Linked DNA regions of Homo sapiens: region 1 is linked to region 2. Evidence: fine-mapped expression QTL. A gene starts in region 2. The other region holds a variant in brackets. All regions are shown on one strand. Distances are from middle to middle. Region 1 overlaps CDC42EP4 (CDC42 effector protein 4). Region 2 holds the start of CDC42EP4 (CDC42 effector protein 4).

Region 1 (12,314 bases), 22 kb before region 2:
GCCTGGGTGATGGTGCCAGCGGCGCCCTCATCGCCATGGTAACCACCCTCCCCCTCCTCGGGGTCCCACTCCTCCTTGTCCATGATGCTGAGGACGTCACCCAGCATGGAGGGCCCCAGGTCGATGTGGAAGGACATGATGGACTCCGCATGCTTCAGCCCGTACGTGGCCTTGGGCACGACAGGCAGATCTGTCAGATCCCCAAAGGCCTGCTCATCGAGGAGGGGGTCAGGGGAATGTGGACCCGCGGCCCCATTCCGACGGGGCACTGCCTCCTCCGTGCCCGCCTCCTCATCGCCGCCCTCCCCGTCATTGGCCTTCTTCACGGGGCTGGATGACAGGCTCTTGGGCAGCTTACTGGTGCCCTTCTCCGCGGCCTCCTTCTCATTGAGCTGGGGCAGGGACATGGCATTCTTGACAAACAGGGCCGAGTCCCGCAGGGAGCCCAGCATGTCACGCTGCTCCCGCTCCCCCCTGGTCACCGACTGTGACCGCTTGCTGCCCCGGAACTTCCTGGACAGGAGACTGCGTTTGGAAGATGAAGAAGAGGGCTGTTCGTCCAAGGACTCGCCGTCGGGCTCGCCAGCCTTGCTATTGAGGAAGGAGGTGTCCCCAAAGGCGTCTCCGGCCCGGCCAACGTGCATGGTGTGGCGGAAGTCGCCCAGCGGGGCGCTGATCATCTCGGCCGTGAGGTCCGCTCGGGAACGGCGCTTGGAGTGCACCGAGCTGGACACCAGTTGCTTGAGGATTGGCATCTTGCTGGATGGGCGGGGAGGTGGGCCCTCCCGAGGTAGCCGGCAGGTCTGGGGTCAGATCTGAAGTCCAAGTCCAGTGGGCAGAGGGGGACGCAATGAGGAGATCATAAGGCTGCAAGCAGAGAATGAGAGGCAAAGGATTAACGCGGGCTGGCCACACGGCACAAAAGCCTCTTTGCCAGGGGACTGTCATTTAAACCCCAGCGCTCCTACCAAAGTTAAATGCTGTGAAATAAGCCAGCAATCCATGGTATAACCCTGCCTGTTTCTTCATCCGCAGGCATTCAGAGTAGAGGAGTGATTTTGCAAATCTGGTTAGAGTTCCAGTAGCCTCGGACACACTTTCCCTGAAACTTGAGAGAGACAGAACCTTTCTTGCAGAAGACAATGCCTCCCCTGCCCCTGCAAGCCAGGATGCTGCCAGAGTAAACATGACCACATTTAAGGACGCGAAGGTAAATCCAGCAATTCCAGGCAGCAAGCCAGGGAAGAGATGGAGTCTATGAGTTGGCTCCTATGAACAGTCAGCCTGGAGATGTGCTGTAAGTTCTTCCTGCTGTCTAACCTCGATCCCTGTGGAGTTAGTGGACACCCCACCCTGAGTCCTGGTCCTCAGAGAGAGAAGGGAAAGGACAGGACGGGCTCAGGGAGACAGAGGCTGACCAGCTCCTCCCCCTGCGTGGGCGGCACAGTCCTCTTTCTGAATCAGAACTGGGGTGGGGCTGCTGGGACCCACAGAACCAGCTCCCCAGCCTTTCAGCCTTCGCTTGGTATCCCATAAATGAGGATCCCGCCTGTGACGTCTCCACTGTGGAGCCCCAGGCTCTTTGCTGAGGGTCCACCTTCTGGTGTCTCGGGGAGATCAAGATTGGGCAACTTCCAGTTTCTTTCATCATTAGGGGAGTGGGAGGCAGGGACTGGACCCTAAATGACTTCGTCCCCCCAGGATCTGCAGACTGATTCCTAGGTGATTCACCAGAAATCCAAAAAACAGCAGAGGTAGAGCCCAGGAGCCTGGAGGCACCACTCTCACAGCTCCTGACAAGGGCCAAGTTGAAGTTCAGCATTGGGGCCAAACCAGCCCCTCTCTTCCCTAGAGGGGCTTGCCCCAAATACTAAGCCCAGCAGAGCTGGGCAGGTTGGGGAGAGATGGGTGCAGGGATTTAACAAAGTATGGTGGGTGAGAGGTGATGCTTGGACACCAGGTACCTGCCTGCCTCCCAGTCCAGCCAGCAGCACAGTTCTGAGAGGCACCCCCAGTCCAGACCCACTCTTCCCACTGCAAAACTCAGATGCTGGGTGCTTCCTCCGCATGCCTGCCGCTGCGTCACACAAGCCCACCACACCCCACCTGGCCCCTGACATCAGCCTGACAGGTCTCCCTGTTGGTCTCCCTCCTGTCCATCCTTCACCTCTTGGCTAAAACAAAACCCATCCACATGACGCCCTACCCAGTGCAGACCCCTTGATCCAATGACTAGTCCCCACCTCGCTCCTCAGTGTCCCCTACTTTTGTACCCTGATCTATCCCCTGAGCTGCAGTGGATACAAACAGTTCCCCAATGCAACCCCTGCCACACCCAGCATCCTTCAGGGCTCAGCTGGGACACATCACTACTCCCAGGAAACCTTTAGCCACCACCTGCCCCCCACGGCACTTTGGGAGATGTCCCCTCTTCCAGCAGATACTGGCTACATTATTCTGTCCCTGCTGGCTGGACTCTCATCTTCCCACTGCAGTACAAACTTCTAGGGTTTTGAGGCAGATTCTCGCCCTGTCCCCCAGGCCGGAGTGTAATGGCATGATCTTGGCTCACTGCAACTTCTGCCTCCCGGGTTCTAGCGATTCTCTTGCCTCAGTCTCCTGAGTAGCTGAGATTTACAGGTGCACACCACCACGTCCAGCTATTTTTTTTTTTTTTTTGTAATTTTAGTAGAGATAGAGATGGAGTTTCACCATGTTGGTCAGGCTGGTCTCGAACTCCTGACCTCAGGTGATCCACCCACCTCGGCCTCCCAGTGCTGGGATCAGGACGTGGGATCAGCGTGAGCCACCGCGCCTGGTCCATCCAGAGGGTTTTAACAGGTCTGTTTACCACCGAGTCTGGTCCAGCAGGGTGTGACACATGGTCCGCCTCCAACCGCCTCCAAGCACCCACTGGAAGTCCAGCACCTCCCTCCTCTCCTCCCCTTCTGCCCACAGCCTGGCTCCAGGGCTCCCAGCCTGACCTCTCTGCATCCTCACCCCCATCCGCTTCCCTGTTCTCTCAAGCCTCTGCTGCCCAGCCTCATGGCTTCCCCCACCAGCAATGTCCCCCCTCCCAGTGCCCACGCCATACCGCTTATCATTCCAGCAAACACAAAGTTCTCTCGGGCAGGGAGGGGGAGCCAGGCACCTGGCAGACTTGCCACACAGTGACGTGGGCGAGGACGTGAGGGATGCCTTGAGATGATACTCTACTCTGGGTCATAGGTCAGCTCTCTCTCCTCCCTACCCTTAGGAAAGTGACCTTCCCCTAACTCTAACTTGGATTATCTCTGGGCCCCACCCTCCTGCCCCACCTCAACCTCTAAACAATTAGACATTGAACCGCTAGACCAAAGGTCAGCAAACACTTTTTGCAAAGGGCCAGAGAGTAAATATTCTCGGCCTTGTGGCTGATAGGGTTTTTGTCACAGCTACTCAACTGTCTTCTTAGTATAAAACTAGCCGTTGGCCGGGCACAGTGGGTCACAACTGTAATCCCAGCACTCTGGGAGGCTACGGCAGGAGGATCAGTTGAGCCCAGGAGTTCCAGACCAGCCTGGGCAACACGGTGAGACCCCATCTCTACACAAAATCAAAAAAAGAAAGAAAGGAGCCATAGCAACATGTAAACAAGTAGGCATGGCTATGTTCCAATAACATTTTATTTACAGACAACTTCTGGGTTGGTGAGCAGATCGAGGTGCCAGGAAGGTGGTGCGTGCCCTGCCCCCCACCCCAACACTTGACCCCACGCATCCTCATGCAGCTCTTCCGTTTGGCTGTTCCTGAGTCGTATCTTTTGTAATAAACCAGTAAAAGAAAAAAAACCACCAAAAAGCCACATCTTTATTTACAAAAGCAAACGCAGGCTGGGTTTGGCCCATGGACTGTAGTTTGCTGACTCCTGAATATCATATATGACCCTCTTGGCCAGCCATGGGCTCCTAGGCAAAACTCTGAAGAAAACAGGAAGGGAGGAAGGGAGGGAGGGAGGAAGGGAGGGAGGAAGGGAGGGGAAGGAAAGGAAGGAAGGAAAGGAAATAAGGAAAGAAAAAAAGAAAGAGAGAAAGAAAAAGAAAGGAAAGAAGGAAAGGAAAGGAAGAGAAGAAAGGAAGAAAGGAAAAGAAAAGCAAGGAAGGAAAGAAAGAGAAAAAGAAGCAGCAGAAGAAAAGAAAAAGAAAAAGAGAAGGTAGACTCTGCCTCAGTCACGTTGGGCATAGAAGGGAAAAAGGCCAAGCTTCAAACGAACTCTCGTTCCTGGCAAATCCTTCAGGCTTCTACTGCCACCAGCAGGGACACCAGTCAGGAACGGAGGGGACCCCATCTTCCACCTGCCTGCACCCCGACTCCTGGCTCTACGCACAGCATCCAGGAATCTCAAAGAACTGGAGGGGATATTCAGTGCAGCACTTTCACTTTATGGATGAGGAAACAAGTTTATTGAAGGAAAGTGATTTATCCAGGTTTTTAGCCCAAAGCAACAGAGCTGGGCTAGAAACTGGGTCTTTGAGTCCAGAGCTCTCTCCGCTCCACTCCAGGCCCTTCTCCAGCTCTGGCGGCGGCATTGCTGGTCAGTGACCACCGACCACTGAGTGCTCCTCCCCACTGCTGGCCGGCAGGGTACAGAGAAGGGGGTACCCAACAGCTGCTTCAAGAAGGTTCTTGTGTAATCCTAGAGCAGGTTCCACACTGTTGCTATTTGGGCCAGATAATTTCTCATCGGGAGGTGGACCTGCCCTGTGCACTGTAGGATATTCAGCAGCATCCCTGGTCTCTACCCATTAGATGCCAGTAGCATCCACCCCCCAGTCACAACAAGCAAAACTGTCTCAAGATATTGCCCAATGTCCCCCAGGAGGCAAAACTGCCCCAGTTGAGAAACAGCAGCCTTGAGTGAGAACACACAGGTGAAGATAGAGCAGGTATGCTCACCAGGTAAACAAC[A/G]AAGACAGAGAAGCAGGGAGGCGGGTGTGGATGGTCAGAACCGGGTGAGAACATGGCGGCACGAGCCCCCAGAGCTGCGTTAAGGGTTTCAACGCCAAGGCAGGAACCCCCAGACCCTGTGAGTGATGTCAGGTCCTGTGGTTTCCCGATCTTATACGCTCATTAGAGAGGAAAGAAAGGGAAACCACAGACCCGGCTCCCCAGGACTCACCAGAGAAGCTGCAGGTCACTGTGGCTGCCCAAAGGGACCAAATATCCTGGCCATGATGGCTACAGGGGAGGACAGCTCCCCGCATCCCATTAGCCACACCACCCAGCACATCCTTGCGGGTAGAACTATTGAGGTAGGTCAGAGGGGACAGCAGGGAAACTCAGCTGAAATCACGGCCATCCTGGGCTAGCCCTGGGGTCCCCAGGATCTTGTTCAACCCCACACCCCAGAAAGACAGGGACAGGTCTACCCAGTGCTGCCTGCTGCCACGGTCTCGCTTCCTGGGGGGTTGGGAACGAGACTTTGTGGCTTGTAGAAAGCCATCTTCAATAACCAGCAAGGAAGGGTCCTGAGAGAGTTGGGGCCTAGAGGGAGTCACGCATCTGTCCCACTGCCCCAGCGAGGAGGGGGCTGCAGTACCTGGCAGTCCACACTGGGGATGAGGCCTGGGTGTCTGGAGCTCAGACTAGACAGGCCACCCAGCAGGATTGAGGGTCAGCAACAGCTTGGTTTCACCAGCCTTGAGTGACCTTGAGTCACTCTGAGCTTCTAACAGAGAACAGTTTGGAGGTGACGAGCTGGATCATAGAGTTTAAGAGAAAGTAGGTGGTGGGAGTCTCGCCAGAGGCCTGGGCAGGTCCTGGGGGCAGCTATGGTTTGGGAGGCCACAGGGCATTGTGGCTTTGGGCGGGGCTTTCAGAAGCATGGTGACTCAGCTCTGGGGAAGTGGCTAAAATAGGCTGCCCAACGTGGGGCAGGCACTCCCCATAGCCTGCCTTGGGCGGGACACCCCCACCCCACCCCAGAAACCACATCCCACTTTCTTGGCAGGGAGAGGGAAAATGGATCACAGCTCACAGCCCTCCCTAGCTCTCCTGAGCCTCCGGAGGAACAGATTCCTCTACCCTCAGCCCACTGACCACGGAACCTTCCTTTAAGGTGGGAACGAGGAGCCCTCCCCAGAAGGTCAGGCCCCTGCTTGGGTCACAGCAACCACACCTTTAGTTCAGCCCTGTTCCTGAGACTACGGAAGACCACCCTTGCCTGGACCCCTCGCCTATCCTCCCTGGCCCTCCCAGCTTGGCCAGCCCAGCAGACCCAGAGCAGAAGGACAGACGGGACCAACACTTCTCACTCCAAGTGACCGGGCAGTGGCCTGTCCCTGGCAGCTTGGCTTGAGGCAGGCGCCAGACCTGAGCTCTCATGGGGCAGCTAGGCAGGCCTCGCTCTCTGAAGCTGCCCTGCGGTTCACCCCGGTATACAGGGTACACAACATGCCTCAATGCCCACTGCCACTGCCTCCGCCACTGCTGCTGGGCAGCATGCCCTCTGCAGGGCCTTCCCCTAGCTGTTCTAACCAACCACCCGATGCCAGGTCCAGGCAATGTGGCCGAATAGCAGAGGGCTTTTAGTGCACGATGACTTTAGTTGTGACCTGGATCGGCTACAAGAGGCTTTGTTCCATTACTCATCATCCAGTCACTCACTCCATGACTTCCTGCAGACCCACTGATATTCACAAACTCTTCTAGGCCCTGGAGATAGAGCAGTGAAAATAGCACGCTGTTTTCCCAGGGCACGTGTGTAGTGTGAGTGTGGGGGGTGGGGGTGGGGAATGGAGGTGTAAACCTATAAATAAAATAAATGGTATCTCATATTCCTCAGTATAAGGAGGGAAAGGGGTGGTATGAGTGGGTGTGGGAGTCAGGGGGTCTGGGGGAGGCCCCTCTTGAGGAAGGAGCATCATGAGTTGAGAACCAAATGATGAGAAGGAACCAGCCGGGTCAGAAGCGACCCAGGCAGAGGGAACGGCGCGTGCAAACGCCGGGGTATAGGAACAGGCTTGTGGCATTTATGGAATAGAATAAAAATCCATGCAGCCAGGGCCCAGGTTACATAGAGCCCTCCCTACCAGGCCACATAAAGAGTTCTGTTTTGTTTTTAGTTTTTATTACAGGCACCTGCCATCATGCCCAGTTAATTTTTGAATTTTTTGGAGAGACCAGGTTTCACCATGTTGGCTAGGCTGGTCCTGAACTCCTGACTTCAGGTGATCTGCCCGCCTCGGCCTCCCAAAGTGCTGGGATTACAGGAGCCACTGCTCCTGGCCGATTTTTTTATGTTTTTAGAGATGGGGTTTCACCACGTCGGCCAGGCTGGTCTCGAACTCCTGGCATCAAGCAATCCACCCGCCTTGGCCTCCCAAAGTTCTGGCATTACAGGCATGAGCCACCGCACCCAGCCCAGGTAAGGAGTTTGGAGGTCATTATAGGTGTACAAGGAAACCGGCGGCTGTTTGTAAGCAGGCGAGTGATTCAATCTGTGTATCTGGAAGCTCCCGGAGGTCCTGGCATTGGAGGAATGAAGGAGGGGAGCTGGAATTCAGTCAGGAGGCTGTTGCAGAAATGCAGGTCAAAGAGGATGGAGACCAGGATGTGGGTCTGGCGAAGGGGGACACAGTGGGAGACATTTAGGCCATGTTTTGGAGGTAGAGACACCCGGGATTGTGGAGGGCCCAGACCAGGGAGGAGAGAAAAGACAGGATCAAATGGGACTCCAGGCCTTCCAGGGGCAGCCTCTGGTCCTGGCCATCCTTTCCCAGGTTTTGCCTGGCAGGCCACGGCCCCTTCTCACAGGAGGGGCTGACATCCTACCCCTAGGCGGAACTTCACTTTGCCGAAACACAGGTGGCATTCTGCTACACAAGGCTTGTCAGATGGAACAGCACGCTGGAGGGGGTTGTGCAAGAGGCTCACTGGGACATGGGCCACAACTCTAAGAGGTGAGGGACTCTGGCTTTAGTCACCAGAGAAAAATCCAGTACTTTCTGGAACACTCACCAGCCTTACCCTGCAAAGATAGGAAAGCACAGGGAAGGCGGAAGACTGTGTTTCATTCAAACTGTGGCAGGGCTGAGGGCAGCTAAGTGAATGGGCGAGAACAGTGACCGCTTAGATACACGTGGTTACATGTTCCAGGCAGGACTTCAATGCCGACTGTGTTGTGATTTTAGCTGACTTTAGTATTCTTGGGGATCTTTTAACTCCTTCATGTGCCCTGCTCAAAAGCCCTTGCATCTGGAAGTGTGCTGCGTGCGCAAGGAGGTTAAGGCTCACTGCTGTAATATTCTGAGCCTAAGTAACCACAATCAAAAACCAAACACAAGGCCGGGCGTGGTGGCTCACACCTGTAATCCCAGCACTTTGGGAGGCTGAGGCGGGTGGATCTCCTGAGGTCAGGAGTTCGAGACCAGCCTGGCCAACATGGTGAAACCCCATCTCCACTAAAAACACAGAAATCAGCCAGGCATGGTGGTGTGCACCTGTAGTCCCAGTTATTCAGGAGGCTGAGGCAGGGAGAATCGCTTGAACCCAGGAGGTGGAGGTTGCAGTGAGCTGAGATCGCGCCACTGCATTCCAGCCTGGGTGACAGAGCAAGATTCTGTCTCAAAAAAAAACAAACAAAGAAACAAAAAAACAAACCCAGGATGGGAACATGAAATGTCACCATCAGGACTCCTGTACCATTTATGTATCTGTGTCAAATATCTCCTTAAAATACCTGGGTGTGGAGGGATCATACTTTCAAGATGGAAAGACCAAATTAAGGGACTTGCCCTAGGTCATGGATTGAAGCCAGAGTTTAATTCCCACCCCAGGGCTCCATTCACTTAAACAGCAATGTACTATCAAAAGTAGGGGGCATCACAGGACAAACACTGAATATGTAATTTGTGTATATACATATATGTGTATATATCTACACACATATATATTTTTATAGGTTATATTCATGTCTATTGTCATTCCACGCATTAGTAAGTTTTAGTTTACACACACACACCACACACACACACGCATGTGCACAAGTTTTGGTGTGTTCTTTCTAAATCCCAGTGGATTTTCTTTTTCTTTCTTTTTTTTGAGACAGAGTTTCGCTCTTGTTGCCCATGCTGGAATGTAATGGTGCACTCTTGGCTCACTGTACCTCCACCTCCCAGATTCAGGCAATTCTCCTGCCTTAGCCTCCTGAGTAGCTGGGATTACAGGCACCTGCTACCACACCCGGCTAATTTTTGTATTTTTTTTAGTAGAGACGGGGTTCCACCATGTTGGCCAAGTTGGTCTCAAACTCCTGACCTCAGGGGATCCACCTGCCTCGGCCTCCCAAAGTGCTGGGATTACAGGCTTGAGCCATTGCGCCTGGCCCCAGTGGATTTTCTTATGTACTCCTTGGGGTGCTAAAATGCAGCACCCACTGTGTCACATGACTCCCACTGAGATTGAGAGATGGTAGACATCTGGGAGAGGATCCAACCCAGTGGTCTTGATTAGGCTGTTGGGACCAGGAGAGGTGACTTGCCAAAGGCCACAGAACTCACAAGGGAGCCGGGCGGTGCTGGAGCCCAAGTCTCTTGACTCCCACCCCAAAGATCTTCCCCAGATAACACCTCAATGGGCTCACCGCCAGGCACTAGGACAACCTTCTGATGTTTGCTACCATCTTGCCCAAATTAAGAGCTGGGAAAGAGAAGAGGGAAGGACCTTCCTCCCACTGAGCAATTGGTACTAGGTGCCACCAGGCAGGGGGAACATTACAAAACTCTGATCCAAGAGCTGCTCAGAGTCAAAATGGTCCCAGGGTGGGGTGGTCTTGCGGTACATGAAACTCCAGCAAAATTTCTTCAAATAATGGCTTTAAAATAAATGATGGTTTTGGCCAGGTGTGGTGGCTCATGCCTGTAATCCCAGCACTTTGGGAGGCTGAGGTAGGTGGATCACCTGAGGTCAGGAGTTTGAGACCAGCCTGGCCAACATGGTGAAACCCCATCTCAACTAATAATACAAAGAAATTAGCCAGGCATGGTGGCGGGTGCCTGTAATCCCAGCTACTAGGGAGGCTGAGGCAGGAGAACTGCTTGAACCTGGGAGGCAGAGGTTGCAGCACACTGAGATCATGCCATTGCACTCCAGCCCAGGCGACAAGAGTGAAACTCCATCTCCAAAAAAAAAAAAAAAAGAATGATGGTTTTAAAATGAATATGATTCAGTTTCCTCAAATAATGGCTTTAAAATGAATGTGATTTAAATGAATATGATTTACCTCCTAGAACTTAACCCTGTGGAACTATTTCAAAGGCGAAAAAAGTCACACACGTATTTGTTGAAGCCTTATTCATAATAGCGAAAGACTGGAGACAGGCTAGTCGCAGTGGCTCACGCCTGTAATCCCAGCACTTTGGGAGGCCGAGGCGGGTGGACCACGACGTCAGGAGTTTGAGACCAGCCTGACCAATATGGCGAAACCCTGTCTCTACTAAAAATACAAAAAAAAAAAAAATTAAAAAATACATAAAAAAATAAAATTAGCTGGGCCTGGTGGTGTGCGCCTGTAATCCCAGCTACTCAGGAGGCTGAGGCAGGAGAATGGCTTGAACCTGGGAGGCAGAGGTTGCAGTGAGCCGAGATCACGCCATTGCACTCCAGCCTGGGCAACAGAGGGAGACTCCATCTCAAAAAAAAAAAAAAAAAAAGACTGGAGACAGACAGCCTAATGCCCAGTGATGGAGGAATGGAATGGCTAAGAAAGCTGGGAGCCATTAACTCAGAGCACCATTCAGCAGTCATGGAAAGTGGGAACTATGAAGACCATAGACAACATGGACCAAATGTTTACCAAATGGCATTAAATGGAAGTGCAAACAAAAGGCAGAACAGAGGCCAAGGCGAAGGTCAGGAGTGCAGTACCAGCCTGGCCAACTTGTTGAAACCCCGTCTCTACTTTTAAAAAAATACACGGCTGGGCACGGTGGCTCACGCCTGTAATCCCAGCACTTTGGGAGGCCGAGGAGGGTGGATCACAAGGTCAGGAGATAGAGACCATCCTGGCTAACATGGTGAAACCCCATCTCTACTAAAATACAAAAAATTAGCCAGGCGCGGTGAGGGGGGCCTGTAGTCCCAGCTACTCGGGAGGCTGAGGCAGGAGAATGGCGTGAACCCGGGAGGCGGAGCTTGCAGTGAGCCGAGATAGCGCCACTGCAGTCTGGCCTGGGCGAAAGAGCAAGACTCCGTCTCAAAAAAAAAAAAAAAAAAAAAAAATACACAAGGCCAAGCGCCGTGGCTCACACCTGTAATCCCAGCACTTTGGGAGGCCGAGGTGGGCAGATCACCCGAGGTCAGGAGTTCAAGACCAGCCTGGCCAACATGGTGAAACCCCATCTCTACTAAAAATACAAAAATTAGCCAGGTGTGGTGGCAGGCGCCTGTAATCCCAGCTACTTGGGAGGCGGAGGCAGGAGAATCACTTGAACCCGGGAGGCGGAGGTTGCTGTGAGCCAAGGTCGCGCCATTGCACTCCAGCCTGGGGGACAAGAGCAAGACTTCGTCTCCAAAAAAAAAAAAAAACACACACACACAAATTAGCCAGGTGTTGTGGCGCGTGCCTGTAATCCCAGCTACACGGGAGGCTGAGGCAGGAGAATCTCTTGAACCCGGGAGGCGGAGGTTGCAGTGAGCTGAGATCACGCCATTGCACTCCAGCTTGGGCAATAGAGTGAGACTCTGTCTCAAAAAAAATAAATAAAAATTTAAAATAAATAGAAAAACAGGCAGAACATATACTTGTTTATGTATAGTGGTTACAACTCTACACAAATATGCATCTGTGAATAAAGACTAAAAGGGCACATGGAGAAATTAAGAAGTTATGTTAGCCTTGAGAGGAAAACAGCCTCTTTTTCTTTTTGTTTATTTATTTATTTATTTATTTTTGAGATGGAGTTTTGCTCTATCGCCCAGGCTGGAGTGTAGTGGCACCATCTCAGCTCACTGCAACCTCCAACTCCTAGGTTCAAGCAATTCTCCTGCCTCAGCCTCCCAAGTAGCTGGGATTACAGGTGCACACCATGACGGCCAGTTAATTTTTATATTTTCAGTAAAGACGGGGTTTCCCCATGTTGACCAGGCTGGTCTTGAACTCCTGACCTCAAGCAATCCACCCGCCTCAGCCTCCCAAAGTGCTGGGATTACAGGTGTGAGCCACCGCACCTGGCCTTTTTCTTTTTAAAACAAACAAACAAACAACAACAGCGAAAAAAAAAAAAAAACCCAAAGTATCAAAGGCTTAAAGAAAAAGCATTCATTTCAAAACCAGC
Region 2 (12,314 bases):
CAAGGGAGGGCTTTGGATGCCAGCACTGCCATCCTGGCACAGAGCCCAGAGCTGCAAGCTGGCAGTGCCTGGGGGAGACTCCAATGTAAGTTAGTTGGAAGGAAGCCCAAGTCTCCTCAAGAAGGCGTATTTTAAGCTGGAGCTTTCGGGGCACGGTGAGCGGGAATGTGGGAGACTAATGTCTGAATTTTTCTTTCTTTCTTTTTTTTTTTTTTTTTTTAGACGGAGTCTCGCTCTGTCACCCAGGCTAGAATGCAGTGGCGCGATCTCGGCTCACTGCAAGCTCCGCCTCCCGGGTTCACACCATTCTCCTGCCTCAGCCTCCCAAGTAGCTGGGACTACAGGCGCCCACCACCAAGCCTAGCTAATTTTTTGTACTTTTTAGTAGAGACAGGGTTTCACTGTGTTAGTCAGGATGGTCTCGATCTCCTGACCTCCTGATCCACCCGCCTTGGCCTCCCAAAGTGCTGGGATTACAGGTGTGAGCCACCACGCCTGGCCCTGAATTTCTCTCTTTTTTTTTTTTTTTTTTTTGAGATGGAGTCTCACTCTATCGCCCATGCTGGAGTACAGCAACCTCCACCTCTTGGGTTCAAGCGATTCTTGTGTCTCAGCTTCCCCAGTAGCTGGGATTATAGGTGCACGCCACCATGCCCGGCTAATTTTTGTATTTTTAGTAGAGACGGGGTTTCACCATATTGGCCAGGCTGATCTCAAACTCCTGACCTCAAGTGATCTGCCCGCCTTGGCCTCCCCAAGTGCTGAGATTACAGGCGTGAGCCACTGTGCCCGGCCCTAATGTCTGAATTTCCTTCCCAACGCACTCAAGCAAAAAGGGCTGTGTCCAGTGCCACATGCGGGCTCCTTCCAGCACTACCATCCAGTTCCCTGCCGAGAGAGGGCACGCATGGGCTTGGCCTTCCTAGAGCACCCCAGAAGCACTGGCTGGAGTTGGCCTTCAGGACACTCTGCCGGATGACCCCTCAAAGTGTCCCCAGCTCCAGAATTTGGTTCTTTTCCTCACGGTCGGGAAAAATCCTCCAGTACGTAGGTCAGAAGAGCTACGCAGAGCTCAGGTCAGCTCTGTTTCCAGGGCGAGATTGCTCAACCCTTCTCCCTCCGCCCACAGGCCTTATCTCTGGCATCAACCCAGCTCCCCATTCCTCCAAGGGACGGACTCCTCCCTCCCCCCACAGGGACAAACTCCTCTGAGTCTGCAGAACCAGAATGAGAACACAGAAGGCTGGACTTACTGCTAACCAAGTGCAACCCTGACCACTCTGACTTCTGACTTCTTCACTTCGAACCCAATCCAAACGTAGGGGCGTGGGGTGGGGGAGAGTGAAAGGGAGAGGCCAACATCAAACACCTTTTGGCCACACCTGCGCACAGACAGTCCGGGCCGCAGAAATCAATCAGTCACTCCAAAGGGGTGGAAGCCCTGGGCCACTGCCAACCCAAGGCCCTTCTGGAAAAGCTCTGGACTTGTTAAGAAGGGTTGGCCAGGGCTGGGTGCAGTGGTTTACGCCTGTAATCCCGGCTCTTGGGGAGGCCGAGGTGGGTGGATTGCCTGAGTTCAGGAGTTCGCGACCGGCCTGGGCAACACAGTGAAACCCTGTTTCTACTAAAATACAAAAAAAAATTAGCCGGGCGTGGTGGCATGCACCTATAATCCCAGCTACTGCAGAGGCTGAGGCAGGAGAATTGCTTGAACCCGGGAGGTGGAGGATGCAGTGAGCCAAGATTGTGCCACTGCACTCCAGCCTGGGCAACAGAGCAAAGCTCTGTCTCCAAAAAAAAAAAAAAAAAAAAGGGTTGGCCAGGTGCAGTGGCTCATACCTGTATGCCCAGCACTTTGAGAGGCCGAGGTGGGGGAAGATCCCTTGAGCTCAGGAGTTCAAGACCAGCCTGGGCAACATGGTGAAACCCCACCTCTACAAAAAATACAAAAAATGGCTGGGCGTGGTGGTGGGCGCCAGTAGTCCCAGCTACTCAGGAGGCTGAAGTGGGAGGATAGCTTGAGCCCAGGAGGTCCAGCCTGCAGTGAGCCTTGACTATGACGCTGCACCACAACCTGGGTGACAGAGCAAGACCTGGTCTCAAAAAATTAATAAATAAAATAAAAATTATTTTTAAAATCAAAAGACTGGTGTAAGATTCCTCTCCCAGGTCAACACTCACTCCCCTGACCTTTATACATGAGACCTCCCTTTGCTTCTGACTCCTTGGTCTCTGGTTCTGTGAGGTGCTGTCGGGTTCCAGAGGCAGCAGCACAGTGGAGGCAGGGTACAGAGGATGGGGACAAGCACGGTGGGTGGGCAAGGGAAAGAGAGAAACGAGGGGAAAAGAGAAGAGGAATCCAAAAAGAGAGAGGCAGAAACCCCAGAAAATGGAGAATCATTCACAGCACAGGCCTAGGCTGTACAGCAGAGCAGGAGCAAGCTGCCCTCTGTGTGCAGGGACCCTAGGACTTCAGGGAGATTTCAGAGGGGAGGCGCTGAGACTCACCCCAGAACCACCGCCCATATGATCACAGCGGGCCCCTCCTAGTCCCTGCAGGGGTCCACCAGGATGCCTGGGAATCCACTTGGGATCTCCCCAAATTCACTGAACACCCCTTGTGGGAAGGAGCAGCTGTCTTCAAGGAGTGGAGAGGCAAAGTCCAAGTTCAGAGGAGATAAGCCACCCCACTAATCAGTCAGTCACATGTGCAGCTCACACAGGGCAGTTGATGAGAGCAGGAACCGGCAGGGCACCCCCGCATTCAGTAGGCACTGGCTTCTCAGCAGAGATAGAGCCTCAGGAGATCCTGGTGGATGCCCTGTTATTGCCCCAGGAGCCCCTGGGGCTGCCAGGGGCTCTCTTAGGGCCTGGCTCAGTCCCAGCCAACTCCCGATTTCTGGGAGAAATCAGAAATCCGCAGCTCAGCAATCCCTTCCTTTGTGGCCTGTTCTTTGTTCTCTTAAAATTCAGTCCACCCTGCTGGTGGTCCCTCCTCCACCCTAGCCTCAGAAGCGGGCGGGGGCTGAGGGAGTTATTGGAAACCCAGACTGCCAAAGAAGTCGCCTTGCAGGAGGCCCCTGTCACCGGCCCCTCATTATTTACACTCGCTGGATGGGACATTTCTCTGGTACAGATGGCTGCTGGGGTTCGGACGAGAGAGAGATTTTCCCTCCAGCACCCTGGACCCTCAGGGGAGGGCAGGGGGCTTCGCAGCGACGGGGGCTCCCAAGGACTCCACCCGGATCCAGCTGCTCAGCTATCTGGGCAAACAGTGGGCACCGGGCACACAGTAAGGGATGTGGGAGCCGGTCAGATTGCAAGGGGTGGGAGTCGTGGAGAGAGAGAAGTTCCAGAGGCAACGAGAAAAGAAAAGGCATTGTATTTCCCCTCCATTCTCCCAGGGAGAAAAAGAAAACTTCCAAAGCCGAGGCCGCAGTCACTGGGAAAACACAGGGAACCTGGTTTGAGTTAGCAGCGAGCACCCCTCCCCCAGTCACACACACACACACACACACACACACACACACACACACACACACACACACGCACTTCAGTCCTCTCCCAGGAAGCTGGCTCAGCCTCAGCCCCGGCTCCCGCCCAGCTCTCCAGCCCTCCCGGCCGGGGCACTCACCGGCTGACGGGATCCCCGCGGGCAGGATGGCTCCTGGGGGACGCGCCGGGGGCAGGGGGCAGTTTTGTAACCCCGGCTGGGGGCGCTCCGGAGAGGGGGCGGGGCCAGGGACGGCCGATCCGCGCGCACCCGCCCCAAGCGGGCGATTAAATCATTAACCGACCGCTCCCGCCTGCGATCCCGCTGAGCGCGCTGAGCTCGGGGCGCACTAGCCCAGGAGCGGCCGTCTCCCCGGCTCCAAGGGGGCGGGTGGCTCGACTGCCCTCCCCCCGCACCCCGCCAGGAGGCGCCTCGGCCTCCCGGGCTTCCGAGGGAGCGGGCGGGGCGGGAGCCTGGCGGGGGAGGGAAGGGTTCGCGGGGCGGGAGTAGGGGAAAGGAGGACCATTTGTTCCTTCGGCCATTCCCTTCCAGACAGCTCCTTCCCTCTGGCTTCCCGGCCGGGTGACATTGGGTGGCGTGTGCTGCAGTGTGTGTACGAGAGCGAGATGTGTACACGCCTCTGCCCGTACAGGCGGAGAATTCGGTTCTTATTCATGGAGAACTCCGGGCGCACACACGCCCCCCTCGCGGAGATCGCGGGCCGCGCGCCGCCGATTGCTGCGCTCCTGCCCACACCGACACACACCCCATTCCTGGGAAGGGGGAGGCCCTTTAAAACCGGCCCCCAACCCCCTCAGCGGCACCCTTGGCCAGGGCCGGGAGTTCCAGCGTGGAGAGAGGAAATGGAGTCCCGGCAACGCTGCGCCCGGCTCCCTGCCACCTCCTCCTCCACACATCCCGCTCTGCCAGGACACTAGGTGCGCAGCTTAGGGTCCCAGGCACCGCGGTGGGCGCGGTGAAAAGCGCGAGCGCCGAGAAGTGGGGGCTCCGCGCCCTTCTCCCCGCGCCGCGGCCTCGCATCCCCAGCTTCGATCCTCTCTGCCCCACAGGGGGACTCGAGACCCCCAAGCCCACCCAGGGCACCCAGCGCGAAGGCGGCTACCACAGACAGAGGCGGTTGCCCGTCGCCTACCTCGGTCCCCGGAGACCCGAGCTCTGGGCCGGCTGCGCTGTCCCCTTCGTGGGCTCCGCGCGGCGGAGGGGCTGGCGGCCCCTGTCAGCGCCGGCGTTTGTTTCCCTCTGGCTCTCGGGCTTTCAGGGCTGGGAGCCTCCAGGACACTCCCCTTCCAGGCTCCGCCCGCGCCCGCCCCGCGCAACCCTCCCCGCGCACCCCTCTGCGCTGATGTCACGGCGCCGCAGCAGCCAATGGCCGTCGGGAACCTCTGCCCGACTGCTCGGCCTCCTCGGTTCAAACTGAAAGCCTGAGACTTTCCCAACTCCGTATGGGGCAGCCTGGGCCCGCCCGGCTTCCGGGAGACACTCCCGCCCCAGCCTGCGCTCCGGCCGCGAACCCCCACTGGGGCCCCCAGGGCCAGGGGCGCGTCTCCCTCCGGGGGCCTGGCGCGAGGCTCTTTTGAGGCTCTTCCCCATTCGAGCCGGGGCAAGAAACCAAGAACTCCAGCCCGGGTGGCGTTCCTCGTTCCTGCTCCCTCCCGGACCTGCTAACCACCTGGCTGCAGTACTGTCGGGAGATGGGGCAGGAGGGCTGGCGCCACCAGCTTCGTGGGTGCCATCCCAGACTCTCGCTGTAAACGAGGGAGCGGGGAGGAGCCGGCCAGCCCCGAGGCCAGGCTTGGACTGGGCGTCAGAAATGTTTCTACAGGGTGACAGCCCTTGAGCTCCCCGCATCCCCGTCTGTGCCTTTGCCTCCTAAGTATCAGCTGAGGCTAAATTTGCACCAGGTGAACGTCAAGGAGGATCAACTCCTGAGTCCCAGAGCCTGAATCCAAGTCCCAGGCCTTGGACTCTATTCTTTTTAGAGGAATAGTTTCAGTTGAAATGATCATTATCAAGGTAGAATGCCAGCTGCGAAGTAGTCAACTAAAGTGGACAAGGCGCAAAGTGAAAAGTTCCCTTGCCTCTAGCTGAACCCCACCCTCGGTTTTTAAAGGAAGTGAGGGTGAAGGCCCCAGACTTTCCCCATGGCTGCGAGGTCCCTAAGCCCTCAGGAACATTCTGCTTTCTGGGGACAGCACATTTCCGTTTCCCTCTGCAGTGCGACAGCAACCAGCTCTTGAGAGCTAATGGTTTGGCCACTCCATCCTGCTGTGAAAATTAAGTTCTGGGCTGGGCGCAGTGGCTCATGCCTGTAATCCTAGCATTTTGGGAGGCCAAGGCAGGTGGGGGGTCACTTGAGGTCAGAAGTTTGAGACCAGCCTGGCCAACATGGCGAAACCCCATCTCTACCAAAAATACAAAAATTAGTCGGGCATGGTGGTGGGCGCCTGTAATCCCAGCTACCCAGGAGGCTGAGGCGGGACAATCGCTTGAACCTGGGAGGTGGAGGTTGCAGTGAGCCGAGATCGCGCTATTGCACTCTAGCCTGGGTGACAGAGGTAGACTCCATCTCAAAAAAAAAAATAAATGAATAATAAGTAAAATCAAATTCTGAACTGGACATCTGGAGGGAAAGGTAGGGTTTGGAGCCACTTGGGAGGCAGACACTGTGGATTCAAACCCTGGCGGGGTTATCATGGATGTAAACCAAAAAGTGACTAAGGCAGATCTCAATCAAATAGAGGTTTAGTTAGCCAAGGTTGAGGATCCACCGGGGAAAAATCACCTTTTTTCCAAAAAGGTTTTGGGAACTTCTGTATTTAAAAGAGAAAAAGCAAGCAGGAAAGGAAAAGAAGAGGGAGAGAGGGAGGAAAGGCATTGAGGTCACAAGCGTGTGAGGCTCTGATTTAGTGTCTGTAAGTCTACATTTTACATGTGAAAGGGAATAGAAGAAAAAGTCAATGATGCATTGTCTCCTACTCAGTACGTCTAAGGGGAGCAAAGGAAACCCTGTGTCAACAGGGTTGTGAAACTGCAGCTATCTGGGAACAAAAGGAAAGCAGCTTCTGTGGTTTCCAAGCTTAACGTCCCCCCCAGCCCCGCCCCTTTTTTTTTTTTGGAGACAGGGTCTTGCTCTGTTGCCCAGGCTGGAGTGCAGTGCTGCAATCGTAGCTCACTATAGCCTTGGCCTCCTGGGCTCAAGCGATCCTCCCACCTCACCCTCCTGAGTAGCTGAGACTACAGGTGTGCGCCACCATGCCCAGCTACATATTTTGTACTTTTTCTTTTGTAGAGACAGGGTTCTGTCATGTTGCCCAGGCTGGTCTCAAACTCCTGAGCTCAAGCAATCCACCCACCTCAACCTCCAAAAGTGCTGGGATTAAACTTTCCCTTTGACATAGTGAATTTGGGGTCCCGAGATTCTATTCCCTTTCACATGGGGAAGTCGCTAATTCCCACCTCTGACCCTTAGCTAGCCTGGCTGTCCTTATGTGTCCAAAGAGCACAGGACCCCTCTGCTAGCCTCGTCTGGAGGGTGTAAAGAGGAATGAGATATCAGGTGTGAAAGCGCTTTATGACTAGAAAGCAACCAGAATGGAGGTGATTGCTGTCATCATGACCTAGTGCCAAAGGTGTCCTCAAAAGAAGTAGGAGCTGCAACAGGACTGTGGGTAAGGCTCGCTGGATAGAGGTTTGGAGACGCCTCTGGATTGGAATTCTAGCTCTGCCATTTATGAGCTGACAAGTTATCCACCAGCTTCCCCATCTGTAAAGTGAGAACAGCAATCTCTACCTTCCCCTATTGGGGTGAATATTAAAAGAGATCACTTAGGCTGGGCGCGGTGGCTCATGCCTGTAATCCCACTGCTTTGGGAGGCTGAAGCCAGTGGATCGCTTGAGCCCAGGAGTTCAAGAGAAACCTGGCAACCTGGCGAAACCCCATCTCTACAAAAGTATACAAAAATCAGCAAGGTGTGGTGGTGCATGCCTGTAGTCCCAGCTATTTGGGAGGCTGAGATGGGAGAATCCACTTGAGCCTGCAGGTTGAGGCTGCAGTAAGCCAAGATCATGCCACTGCATTCTAGCCTGGGTAACAGAGGGAGACCCTGTCTCAAAAAACAAACAAACAAACAAACAAAGGCACCTGGCCATTTGCTGGGCATATGCAGGCCCTCAGTGGGTCTCCTTCTACCACATTGCTTCCAGGTGGAAGTCCTCCCTGGTTCCTGGCGTTCCAGGACCTCTTTCTCCTGAAATCATAGCTTAAGTTAAAAACAAAAACAAAAAAAAAACGTTTCTTATTTTCTCTGAGACATCTCCCTCTCCCCATCTCTTTCCTTCCATTTTAAATGAAGTATTTCGGTTTTCTTAGGGCTAGCTGTTAGTAATCTGTTTTCCTTTTCCCAATTATCATCCATATCTATTAAGCACACCTCCGGGACAAAGTCTTTAGGTCCCTTTGTAATTCTGCTCCTTACCCAAATTCAGGCTCCTTCCACAAACATTTAACAACAGTGGAGGCTTGCCTTTGGGGACAAAGACAACGAAGCCCAGTCCCTGCCCTCAGGACGCCTAGAGTAGAAACAAACTGCTTCAGGGAGGGGCTCCGTAGATGCTTCTAGACTGCATCCTAGCCCTCTGAGGGAAGATGTGATTAGAAGATCATTTTCTTTGATGGTGGGAATCCCAGACCTGTGGATTTCTCTCCGAAGGATCCACTGAAGCAAGTTTTGCTCCAACCCGTTAGGCTAGAGCTGTCTATGAGTAACCAGAGGAAATTAACAAAATAAAAAATCTGAGGCTTGAATACATACCTACTTGAAATTTCTGGCAAGCTCTAAGCCCCTGACTTTGGAGAGGGATTTGAGGTCTTAACTGCACCCTTGGTGTAACTTGACCTGTAAGCCTTTAGGCCTAGGCGTGTGTCTCTGCCTGTCTGGGGCCGCTGGGGCCTGCCTGCCTCTGGGACTTGGGCATGCATGATCCTTGCAGCTTCATGGACTTGCCCCTCCCTAATATCCACCCCCAACCCCCAACACATATTAGGTAGATGCAAAAGTTATTGCGGTTTTTGCCATTACTTTCAATGGCAAAAACCGCAATTACTTTTTTGCACCAACATACCACATCCCAGTGTTTGTTAACATGGAGTTCTGGGCATTTTAGTTCATGTTATTTTGTCCCAGCTCTAAGAGGTTAATTAGTCCTATTTCCTTTTTTTTTTTTTTTTTTTTTTTTTGAGACGGAGTCTCGCTCTGTTGCCCAGGCTGGAGTGCAGTGGCATGATCTCGGCTCACTGCAAGCTCTGCCTCCCAGGTTCACGCCATTCTCCTGCCTCGGCCTCCTGAGTAGCTGGGACTACAGGCGCCCGCCACCACGCCCGGGTAATTCTTTGTATTTTTAGTAGAGACGGGATTTCACCACGTTAGCCAGGATGGTCTCGATCTCCTGACCTCGTGATTTGCCCGCCTCGGCCTCCCGAAGTGCAAGATCACAGGCGTGAGCCACCGCGCCCGGCCAATTTGTCCTATTTCCTTGGAGGGGCTGGAAGTTCCACTCATTCCAGTCTGGTGTTTGTCCTAAAGTATGACTCTGGGCAGGTCATTTCTCTTCGTGAAATAAGCTATCTCCCCAAGCAAGAACACTACAACTTTCTATGTCTATTCCCCTTTTTTTTTTTTTTTTTTTTTTTTTTTTTTAGGATTCTTGCTCTGACGCCCAGGCTGCAGTGCAGTCCGCAATCTCAGTTCACTGCAGCCTCCGCCTCCTGGGTTCAAGCGATTCTCCTGCCTCAGCCTCCTGAGTAGCTGGGATTATAGGTGCCCACTACCAATTAGCCAATTCCTGGCTAATTTTTTTTTTTTTTTAGTAGAGGCAGGTTTTACCCTGTTGGCCAGGCTGATCTCGAACTCTTGACTTCAAGTGATCTTCCCTCCTCTGCCTCCCAAAGGACTGGGATTATAGGTGTGAGCCACCGTGCCTGGCTTTCAAGTCTATTTTGAGCCCCCCTTCCCCTATTGAGGTGAGACAAGATGGTCCTGGACTGAACCTCAAGGTGCCACCATGGCTTGATGTCAGCACAGTTTGGGTGGAGCCTTGGTGATCCAGGTCAGGAGCCCATCAGCTGGGGTGGCCTGGCGCTGGGCTGTCCACTCCCATGCCTGCAAGAGAGAGGCTCTTTCACGCCTTGCTTCCCCGTTCTTGGGAACCACCTGGAGCCCTTTCATGGGGCTGGGGCAACCTGCTGAGCAGCTGGGAAAATCCTGAAAATACCAAACTACTGGCAGAGTGCCTGGGGCTCCAGACAAGACTCCTCCACCATGGTGGGGAAAAGTACCTGCATCTGGGGGCTCTTTCTGCCCCAGGTTTCAGGGGCATAACCCTGATTTTCTGGGGGAGTTCACGCACATCAGGGGGCTGGGGCAGCCAGTGCATGCCTAGAGAGTAAAGCAATACGATTTCCCCTTGGCCTCCCTGGGGACAGGGTGGTGTTCAGTTCATGTCTGAACCTCCAGCGTGGGTTGGCACACAGTGCATTTGCTAGACAAATGAATGAGCAGAGTTCACAGCCCACATCCCTCCCTTCTTCCATTTGCAACCCCAGCCTCAACTAAGCTCTGTGTGGTCACTTTTTCCCTGAAATGAGCTGTACTGGCCCACAGGGTCACACATCGTCCCAGAACGGCAGCTCCCAAGGGTTCACAGCACAAATTGGCCCAGGAGGTGAGGGAGGCCGCTGTGTGTCAGAGGTCCCCTGGCCCAGAGAGACGCCGTTCACAAGGCTGGGGGTTCTCTGGAGGCAGGAGGTGAAAATAGGATTGAACTAGGCTCAAAGATGGGATGAGGTGTGTGAAGGGGCAGTAGCAGAGCAGAGGGGTCATGAAATTTACAGGAAATGAGTCCAGATGTGGGGCTTAGAACACCTGGGTTGTACTTGTTGTGTGACCTTGGAGGAGTCGTCTTATCGCTTTGAGTCACACCTGTAAGGGGGGCATGGTAATAATTCAGGCCATAGGAGGCTATCAGAAGAATGGAAGGAGATAAGGCGTGTGATCTTGCTTCCTGAAAAGTCTAAAGGAAGGCCCTAGCTACTATTAGGTTGTTACTAAGTTGAGCTTTAGGGTTCTGGGTACTGTGGCTCCCTCCTTCCCTCTGCAGGGAAAAGACAGACAGCCAGGCCTCCCCACACCCCACTCAGGAATCTGTCACTGTGCATTGTCAGGTTATTAACAGGCCACTCCTGACCACTGAGCTGGGACATTTCCAAGAAAGCAGGAGATGATATTAAATTTCTTGTTCATCCAGCAGGGAGAAAAGAGTGGGCAAGAAAGATACAGCAAAAGCTCTGGGCTGCTGAGAAAATTAGCAGAGAAGTCAACTAAAGTCAGTAAAACTTGCAAGCAGGGGCCCTGGGAAGAATGTTTCCTGTGACCCCCGGATTTCTGAAGCCCAGAGCTTCACCCACTGTGACCCGTGGCAAAAATGGGGGAGCCCAACCACGCCTCTGAGCAGAGGATTCCACCTGGTGCTCCAAAGGCCTGAGAGTCCTGGTTAGAAACACGGGCCCTAGGGCCAGATGATACTGGCTTTGAATCTAAATTGTCACTGTGATCTGAGAAGTCCCTTGAGCTCCCCCAGGGCTTGGTCTCATTTGCACAATGGAGACTACAAGAGATCCCACTCATGCTGATGGCGTGGGGTTGGTGGCTAATGCAGGTCAGAACTCATCCCCAAGCTAGGACCACACCAAGGTGTCACTACTTGGATGCTGGCTGGTCTCACAGTTAAAAGGACCTAAGTTTGGGAGGCTGAGGCGCGTGGATCACTTGAGGTCAGGAGTTGGCGGGCGCCTGTAATCTCAGGTACTAGGGAGACTGAGGCAGGAGAATCGCTTGAACCTGGGAGGCGGAAGTTGCAGTGAGACAAGATCACACCACTGCACTCCAGCCTGGGTGACAGAGTGAGACCCTATCTCTGAAAAAATAAATAAATAAAGAAATAGGACCGAAGTTAGACTTTCTGGAGCAAGCTTCATTCTGACATTCATCCTTGCCACAGAATGGGGCCATCCCTGTTAGTGTTTCTGAGAACTGAGCTAACAGAAAACAAAAATTAACAGCATTATCTGCAAGAAGCAGTCCTGGGCTTCTGATAAAGGACTCAGGCTCTGGTGGGCTCACCCAGAGGGGCCCCCCTTATGTCATTGTCTCTGGGGAAGGGTGGGCGGGGACCCAGCTCTGCTGGAGAACAGCCGGTGATAGCCAGAAGCCCTCAGGGTTTCTAGAGGGATGGAAAGAAAAGAGACTAGGTGAAGCAAAGCACTTCTGTTTGCATCCAGAAAAGGCCTCTCCCCTGAGAGCCCGGGTCAGTGGCAAACGGGACTTGAATAAGGATCACTTAGAAAAGGCAGGGCCACTTCTAGAGTACTTTACTTATCGAGTACTTTACTGTATGTAAAGATTTCTGCATCTCAAATCTACAAAGTGGTTGCCATTATGATTCCCATTGCAGATAAAAAACAGAAAAGGCCAGATGCAGTGGCTCACACCTATAATCCCAGCACTTTGGGAGGCCGAGACAAGCAGATCAATTGAGGTCAGGAGTTCGAGACCAGCCTGGCCAACAGTGAACCCCCGTCTCTACTAAAAATACAAAAATTAGCCGGGTGTGGTGGCACATGCCTATAATCCCAGGTACTTGGGAGGTTGAGACAGGAGAATCACTTGAACCCGGGAGGTGGAGGTTGCAGTGAGCCAAGATCGCGCCACTGCACTCCAGCCTGGGCGACAGAGCGAGACTCTAT

Evidence for each region.
Region 1: its variant is fine-mapped to the expression of CDC42EP4 in whole blood (TOPMed, PIP above 0.99).

What each region holds. Positions count from the first base shown.
Region 1 is chr17:73,285,746-73,298,059 of GRCh38, forward strand. CDC42EP4 (CDC42 effector protein 4) reads right to left here. Exons shown (of 2, transcript NM_012121.5): 2 at 1-867. The coding sequence starts at 755. Among named protein-coding and RNA genes, the nearest start is that of CDC42EP4, 20 kb to the right of the region's middle. RefSeq lists enhancers at 670-1,224, 5,181-5,400, 5,691-5,770, 5,745-6,039, 6,023-6,904 and 2 more. The variant A/G (reference allele first, on the strand shown) is at 4,948.
Region 2 is chr17:73,307,247-73,319,560 of GRCh38, forward strand. CDC42EP4 (CDC42 effector protein 4) reads right to left here and starts at 4,755. Exons shown (of 2, transcript NM_012121.5): 1 at 4,647-4,755. RefSeq lists silencers at 3,504-3,633, 3,644-4,193, 4,644-4,903, 4,974-5,133 and an enhancer at 10,701-11,453.